Linked DNA regions of Homo sapiens. The protein of the gene in region 1 interacts with the protein of each later gene in a pairwise test. Each region holds a gene or a part of one and is shown in the gene's direction. Other genes may lie near its edges.

Region 1 (5,268 bases):
ACTAAAATCTTAAGATATTTCTTAAGTTTTTTTTTTTTTTGATTACTCCTTTGCCATCTTCATCTGACTGCTGTCTTCAGTGCAGAAGACAAAACACTGAATGTGAGTGAATGTGAGATCATGCTCTCTGTGCTTGAAGTAGTTTCAGCATCATATTTTCACTTGACACAAGGAGAAAGTTTAATTAGCAGTATAATTGAATATTTATGTGAATCGTAATGGCATTTATTTTTTAAGTAAATGTTGATTTTGAGCCTTTTCTAACTAGTATGAGATGAAACTAATTCACCACTAAGATACTGCTTAGTGAAATTATTTAAACATTGGCAATGCCCCTCTTGAGACTATAAGCAGTTATCTAACAATCTACTAATATTTTCTTAACACAAAGCTTCATTTTAGAAAATTTTTGATTCTTTAGTGGATGAAAGCAGAAGACTCATCTAAAGTTAGTGGTGGAACACCTATCAAAATTGAAGATCCAAATCAGTTTGTTCCTTTAAACACAAACCCGAATGAGGTACTAGAAAAGAGAAATAAGGTAAGACATGGTCTTCTATAGCCAGGGGAGACATTTTAATTGCTTTATGTTTAAATCACCAGTGGTTGAATCTGGTTAATGCCAAACTTAGAAGTTTGAATACAGAAGAATTTGGAATTTAATTCAGTATAATTTTAGCTTATATTGAATGCCTCCAGCTCTGTGCTAGTAATTGGTGAACAGGCTACATGGGGAAGATGTATTGAACATTTTTCTGCGTTAGAGAACCCTGCTATTAGGGGGAAAATGCAGTTCTCTAACAACCTAAGACGAAAGGAAATAACTTGCCATAAAGAGCAGAGGAGACTAATATGAGTTGTTAGGATGGTAAAAGAGGTCTTTATGGAGGTGGGAATTGAAGAGACTCTCACTCTGGAAATGTCAAGTAGTAAGCTTTTATGAAAAGATAAAGCAAAGGTCATCTGCATAGTTGCCCTCAAGAACTTTATATTGAATTGTTTTTCAATTCAGATTCGGGAACAAAATCGATATGACTTGAAAACAGCAGGACCACAATCTCAGTTGCTTGCTGGAATTGTTGTGGATAAGCCACCTTCTGTAAGTTTATGAAGTAGTATGATCTTTGTTTTTTATTTACCACATTAATTTCATTGATTTTTAAATATGAATATTTATTTTTACTAAGGTTAATATAAGCACAAGTTAAAAAGTCAACTCACAAGATTTAAAATGTCACCCACAATTCCCAGTTTCCAGGTGCAGCAACTTTCTGTTCTTTTCATTGCTTCTAATGTTTACTTTGGTGTTTCTGGTTAGTTAGTTGAGATGAGGTCTCACTCTGTTGCCCAGGATAGTCGTGAACACCTGATCTCAGGTGATCCTCCAGCCTTGACCTCCTGAAGTATTGGGATTACAGGTATAAACCACTGCTCCTCGTCCTCCTTTGATGTTTCTAAAGAGCATCTTCTGCTTTTTCTTGGTCTATCAGTTTTAGACCTTGACTATTTTTCATCAAATCTGTGTTATCCGTTATAAGAAGTACCATTGTTTTATATGTCACTAAAAGAGAAAAAACACTGCCAATTATAATTGTTCCCAATTTCAGAGATGGAAAAAGTTCATCTTAGAATTAATGAAATATTTTTGAAAGATGGGGATTTAGCCTGTTTATACAGTGCTTCCCTTTTTCCCTCTCCCCATTCTCCCAGTAAGGATACATCACAGTTTTTGTTTTTTGTTTTTTGTTTTTTTCTGTTAGATCAGCTTTCGTTATTTATATTACTACATGTTTGCTGCTAAGCCAGGTAGTATTTCCTTTCTTACATAAGTCACCCCTCCCTACTCTCACCTTGCCTTTTTTTCATTGGCTTATTATTTGGGGTACATTGGCTTAGTTCTTCCCGAACTTTTTAAAAGAATTATAAAGTCCCGGCTGGGTGCAGTGGCTCACGCCTGTAATCCCAGCACTTTGGGAGGCCGAGGCGGGCAGATCACGAGGTCAAGAGATCAAGACCATCCTGGCCAACATGGTGAAACCCCATCTCTACTGAAAATACAAAAATTAGCTGTGCGTGGTGGCGTGCACCTGTAGTCCCAGCTACTCAGGAGGCTGAGGCAGGAGAATCACTCGAACCCGGGAGGCAGAGGTTGCAGTGAGCCAAGATCATGCCACTGTACTCCAGCCTGGTGACAGAGCGAGACTCCGTCTCAAAAAATAAGAATAACATAAAATCTGTCCTAATATTATTTTCCACAGGGTGAAAGTCAACAGGTAATCTCTCTGTTCCAGCCCCCCTTCATTCTGATCCAAATCTAAATTGGTTGCTCTCAGGCCAGCTGCACAGGTTCATCTGGAGGATTCCTGTGCTGCTGATCTATATTGTATTCCGTTTCCTGTATCTTGTGTCTTCTGCTTTCTTGATTTCCTCCTTTACTGTAGAACGCACCCTCTAATAGCTTTCCGAGAAAAGGATACATAGGTGGTAACAGTCTGAAATGCCTTTATTCTATCTTCAAATGTGCATATAATGGATATAGAATAGTTTAGAAATAATTTTCCCCTGAAATAAGAAAAGCATCATTCTGTTCCCTATTTTATTGTTGAAGTAGGAAGGCATTGGAATTCCTGAACCTTTGTTTAGGATTTTTTTTTTTTTTTTTTTTTTGCTTTTAGACCCTTTCTGCATCCCTGCTGTTCTGAAATTTTATGATTGTGTGCTGATCTCTTTTTAGTCTTTTTTCTAAGTAATTAGTAACCCTTTTCAATCTCCAGAGTCATATCCTTCAGTTCTGGAAGTTTTTTAAAAGTGTTTCTTCAAGAGTGTTTTCTTCCCATTTCTTTTTCTGTCAGTATATTATGTTAGTTTGGATGTTGGGCCTCTTTGAGCCTCTGATTTTTTTCTTTTCTCTCCTACTTGCCATCTCTTTATCTTTGTATCCTACTTTCTGGGAGAATGTTTTCTAACCCTTTTAATTTTTTATTTTGATGTTAACTTTTTTAATTTATTTTATTTTATTTATTTTTTTTGAGATGGAGTCTCGCACTGTTGCCCAGGCTAGAGTGCAGTGGCGCGATCTTGGCTCACTGCAAGCTCCGCCTTCCTGGGTGCACGCCATTCTCTGCCTCAGCCTCCCAAGTAGCTGGGACTACAGGCGCCTGTCACCGTGCCCGACTAATTTTTTTTGTATTTTTAGTAGAGACAGGGTTTCACCGCGTTAGCCAGGATGGTTTCAATCTCCTGACCTCGTGATCTGCCCGCCTTGGCCTCCCAAAGTGCTGGGATTACAGGCGTGAGCCACCACGCCCAGCCAACTTTTTTATTTTTAATAAGAGTTCTTATTCCCTGAATGTTCCTTTTTAATAACATCCTGATCTTTACACTTTCTCTTATTGCTCTAAGGGTATCAATTTTAAATTTTCTTCATTTGCCTTTGTTGTCTTTGTCTATTCTGAGTTGTTCCGTATGTCTGTTTATATGGAAGAATGAGACATTAAAGCATATCAGAAGCTCTGGGTATACACAGAGCTCGGGGATTGGTGGGCTTCACTGTAGGGTGATTGGATGTGGACCAGGTTGTTTCTCTGGGGAATCCCCAAACATTATTCTCTGTAATTCTTTTATCTGGGACTATTTAGTTTATCTGGAAAAGAACTCCAGTCTCCTGCCAGTTTCCAACCATCATTCTAGGAGCCTGCAACTGTATTTTGTGTCCCCTAGTTAGTTTTTCTTTCTTTCTTTCTTTCTTTTTTTTTTTTTTTTGAGACGGAGTTTTGTTCTTGTTGCCCAGGCTGGAGCGCAATGGCGTGACCTCAGCTCACGGCAACCTCCGCCTCCCGGGTTCAAGCCATTCTCCTGCCTCAGCCTCCTGAGTAGCTGGGATTACAGGCATGCACCACCATGCCCGGCTAATTTTGTATTTTTAGTAGAGGCAGGGTTTCTCCATGTTGGTCAGGCTAGTCTCGAACTCTGGACCTCAGGTGATCTGCTCGCCTTGGCCTTCCAAAGTGCTGGGATTACAGGTGTGAGCCACCGCGCCCAGCCTAGTTTTTCTTTCTCAAGCCTCTGATCTTCTGCAGAGATGAGAGAGAGGGAAATGCTTGGCTCTGTGGAATAGGGAAGGGAACCTGGGAATCTGTTTCCTATTCAGACTTTGAACATGTTCCTCTATTTTCACCTTTTCCTTACCACCACCTTCTATGGTACCTATTGCCTCTAGTTTATGGGCCTTACCAGACCTCTTCAGGGCAAATAAGCATGCTTCTCATTTGCATCCTTTTTTTCAGGACTGAGGCTTCAACTTTCTCAGCTCTGCTACCTGCTGTTCCACTTGCATTCCAGCTTCCAAAAATATGTTAACATTTCTCATCCTTTGTTGTTTCATCTCACATTCTTTTGTCCTTAAGGGTGTTTTGTTTTGTTTTTTTCTATTCCTTTACTATCATTTTAGTGGGGTTTTGGGAGGGATGAAAAATAAATACATGGGTTCCATATGCCAACTGCAACTGAAATTCTCATTATTTCCTTTCCTGGAGAAAACAGCTACAAGCTTATTTTCGTAACAGATTTAAAGAACTACTTTTGGTACAGTTTCATTTCTGTAAGCCTTTTTTACAGTGGTCTTTAAAATGGAGCAATTCTTGTTTTTTTCAAGTTTTTTTTATGTGAAACTTATTAGAACTTGGCATAATGGTTTTTAAAAATTATTAAGATTTACTTATACAGGCTTATTGAGGAAATATCACTGGCAATTTTAGTCCATTGGATTAGTAGTTTAAGGGCATCAATCTTACAAGAGCATTTTAAACAAAGCATGTTACCTTGCATTTCTTAGGATTGTTGTGAAATAAGGCTTCACAAACATCATATTTGCATTTATGTGTATATAGATGGATGGATGGATAGATATATAAGTAAAACTCTTGGTAATGAATCGATTTTTATTTTTTCTTTGTAAGACTATGCAATTTGAAGATGATGATCATGGCCCACCAGCTCCTCCTAACCCATTTAGTCATCTCACAGAAGGAGAACTTGAAGAGTATAAGAGGACAATCGAACGTAAACAACAAGGCCTAGAAGGTTAGTTAATCTTTACATTCAACCTAGGGTAAGCCACACTGATAACAATAAAGTACCTCACGTTGGATGATAGAAAGCAGTCAGTGTGGCCGGGCACAATGGCTCACACCTGTAATCCCAGCACTTTGGGAGACCAAGGCAGGTGGATTGCTTGAGGTCAGGAGTTTGAGACCAGCCTGGCCAACA
Region 2 (3,500 bases), on another chromosome or scaffold:
ACAGACAGCCCAGGAGTGTTTGGGCAGAGACTGGGGGCTTTGCCCAGCGGTATGACAGGAAGGCTGAATTTTTGTTGCATATGAGCCTCAAAGGCTGAATTTTTGTTGGAAATGCACCTTGGGGAGTTTCCTTCAGCCCCAGCTGGTACAGTCACAGACTCAGCCCCTTTGGCCACCTCCCCAGATCTCTGCTCAGGCAGCTGCTAGTTAGGTCCAGGGGCCAGTCCTGCCTTGAGAAGCAGGAATGTTCTGGAGCTGAGGACCCAGACATCCAAGGGTGTCTTTCTAGACTTGTGCTATCCTCCTCTTCCCTGGAGAAGCTTCACCTCTCCACTGCCCACCTGCGGGTTCTGGCACTTTCCTCCCCCACCTGCCTCCTGGAAGGCGGTGAGGTGGAATTGTGGTTTATGGGTGCACCGAGCCTTTGGCTGAGCTGCTTAGCGGCCTGGAGTTTGCACCCAAGCATAGAAGACAGGCCCATAGGCCCAATTTTCAGGAACTCTGCAGCCAAGTAGAGGTCTTTCCTACATAAACAACATAGCAAATTAATGGGCCCAAGGAAAACTGGGATTAATGGGAAGAAAATATAAATGGCAACAAACAGTTTCACTGTGAATACCCTCATGTTCCTGAACAGCAAACATCAGCAACAGCTTGACACTTGGTTGAATGCACTTAACTGACTACTTTGTGTAAATAACTACATCACTCACCCCCCCTCCCCATTAAGGATTTGGGGATTAAAACATAATTGTGGCATTTTGAAAACTAAAAAGCAGATTGAATTTTTTCATTCTGCCAGATACAAACTTTGGTGGCTAATGTTTCCCTCAATGAAAGCAATGACTGTTAAATAAGAGTTCTTAATGGGTGGGAACTCCTTGAAGCTGAAGGCAAAATTCCTGTGTGCACATGTATATGCACGCGTGTGTGTGTGTGCACGCACGAGACGCACACAGACATGCACCCTCCAGCGGAGAAAGCCCGCCCCCTTTGTCAAGTTCTCAGAGGTGTCCTTGGGACAGAGGTCACCGTTGGGGGCAGCATCCCAGAGGTGGGGCCTGCGAAGCGTCTGAGGACTCCTGTCACCTTGTGCTTGCAGTGTTGGTGAAGGGCCAGGTCACCACCAAGTACTACCGGCTGCTGTCCAAGCGGGGCGGCTGGGTGTGGGTGCAGAGCTACGCCACCGTGGTGCACAACAGCCGCTCGTCCCGGCCCCACTGCATCGTGAGTGTCAATTATGTACTCACGTAAGTCACACGTATTTGTTTCTCTCCTTGCTCTTTTCTCTTCCCTGTCCCACATCGGATGGCTCCAATAAGCACCATCTCTCTTTCTCTCTTTCTCAAACTGTTCATTTGTCTTCTGTTTTTTTTCTTTTTTTTAATTTTTTTTTTTTAGGAATCTGGTCATTTTGGAAGGTGCAAACTATTTCTATGCTCAGCGGTGAAAGCCAAGTGCTAGGCTGCAGGGGGAGCCAGGAGGAGGGGGCCTGCCCTGGGCATAGCTTCGGATCCCATCACAGAACCTAGTGAGGAGCATGGGGGCGGATGGTGATGCCCCCCATCCTGAATAGGGTGCAAAGAGGGTGCACACCCCCCATCAAGAATATAAACTTGTGCTATCCATGCCTATAAGCCTTTAGGTCATCTTAGATGCTCCTGCTGTTTGAGACAGGAAATATCCCATTTTTTACCTGTCTTCTTATAGAGCCTGTTACAAATTAATCATGGTGAATATTTGGTCCTTTAAACACTCCAGAAGGTCAAGTTCAGTCGCAAATGCCTTTTTTTTTTTGTAAATTAAAAAAAAATATGTTTTTGTAGAGACGGGGTTTTGCTATGTTGCCCAGGAGCTGGTCTCGAACTCCTGGCTTCAAGTGATCCTCCCACCTCGGCCTCCCAAAGTGCTGGAATTACAGGCATGAGCCACGGTGCCCAGCCTGCAAATACTTTTAAGGCCATTAGAAGCAATAGGACAGATGTCTATCTGGGGCCATATATTACTTTCCACCCACCATAGCTATTGTACGTTCAATCACCTTGCTCCAGGCTGTGACCCTTGCCATGCCGCCAGCCCCATGATGAAAAGAGTTCTCGTTTGCACTTTACATGGGGTGAGGATTTAGGCTCTAGGTTTGTTCATAGAATGACTGTGTCTTAGAAGTCAAGTGATTCTGACAAAACTGTCAGGGAGAAAACAGTTTAGCCCTTTAGTTATTCTTCCTGAGCAAATGTGTGGGCTGGTTCTCCAGGTCGACCTCTCCTTGTGTGAACATGACCCTGCTGAGTTGGTTCTTTAGGGCAGAGATGGGCCCCCGATGTGAGAATGCACAAAGCTGGTGGTCAGGCTCCCAGACCTGTGAAGAGTCCCGGACTCTTGCCTCCTGGGGTGCTAACTGGAGAGGCAGCTGGGCCACAGGTGTGCATGTTGGATGCAGGTGGACCTGATCAATGGTATTTCTGCCTGTCTCTTTTTCCCTTGGTGGCTTTCCTCATGGCCCACGACCTCCCCGAGCAATGTGTTTGGGGTTTTATTGGACTGGAGAGAGCTCTGACCTGGCTCAGCATTTCCTGGGGTGGCCCAGCCTGGGGCTGCAGATGGCTTTTATAATGAGGGTGAGCTGGCCTTGTCTCAAATCCCATCCACATCCAATCCCAGTGAAAAGACACACTGGAGCACTGAGAACGCCCTGCCCAAGGGCTGGGGCCAGGGAAGCTGCTCGGCCTCCAGCGCCTGCTGGACATGACTCGGCCCACTCTCGCCTTCCAGGGAGATTGAATACAAGGAACTTCAGCTGTCCCTGGAGCAGGTGTCCACTGCCAAGTCCCAGGACTCCTGGAGGACCGCCTTGTCTACCTCACAAGAAACTAGGAAATTAGTGAAACCCAAAAATACCAAGATGAAGACAAAGCTGAGAACAAACCCTTACCCCCCACAGGTAACACGCATGTCCTGCAGTTTTGGGGTGCTGACATCTATCCTAGGGGTTCGGGACACCTGGACACATTAAGGAATGGGGAGCCTCTCATTGCACAGCAGGGATCTCCCTGCCGTGGAGCAAGGTCCCTCTGGGATGTCTTGCCTACACAGTAGTGACAGCCCGGGGAAGGCCGACATCCCGGTGGGCTAGTCAAGTTTAGGAAACAGAAGACTAAATTGGAAAGGCACTTCAGCCCACTAGAATCCATGGGTTAGATTCTAATGGGCTTGACGGGTTGGAATCCACGGGTTAGATTCTAGACTGGTGGGTTAGAATACCAGTCCATTGTATTTCTGCAGCATTTTAAAAATGAAAGCCCTCCCTCTTTTTAAAAAAGTAGTTTGTGAGCTCTCAGAAATAGCAATTGTCGGTTGGGCGTGGTGGCCCATGCCTGTAATACCAGCACTTTGGGAGGCCGAGGCAGGTGGATCACCTGAGGTCAGGAGTTTGAGTCCAGCCTGGCCAACATGGTGATACTCCATCTCTATTAAAAATACAAAACTTCGCGCCTGTAGTC

Evidence for each region. Proteins that work in one complex are often made in the same cells at the same time.
Region 2: the proteins of ADD3 (region 1) and SIM2 interact in a two-hybrid assay, tested with the Homo sapiens proteins (one large-scale study listed by BioGRID and IntAct).

What each region holds. Positions count from the first base shown.
Region 1 is NC_000010.11:110,125,405-110,130,672, forward strand, and holds part of ADD3 (gamma-adducin), read left to right. Parts: intron 1-421; coding exon 422-541; intron 542-1,012; coding exon 1,013-1,099; intron 1,100-4,958; coding exon 4,959-5,082; intron 5,083-5,268. UniProt on the Homo sapiens protein: Membrane-cytoskeleton-associated protein that promotes the assembly of the spectrin-actin network. Plays a role in actin filament capping. Binds to calmodulin.
Region 2 is NC_000021.9:36,740,615-36,744,114, forward strand, and holds part of SIM2 (single-minded homolog 2 long isoform), read left to right. Parts: intron 1-1,102; coding exon 1,103-1,250; intron 1,251-2,772; coding exon 2,773-2,941; intron 2,942-3,500. UniProt on the Homo sapiens protein: Transcription factor that may be a master gene of CNS development in cooperation with Arnt. It may have pleiotropic effects in the tissues expressed during development.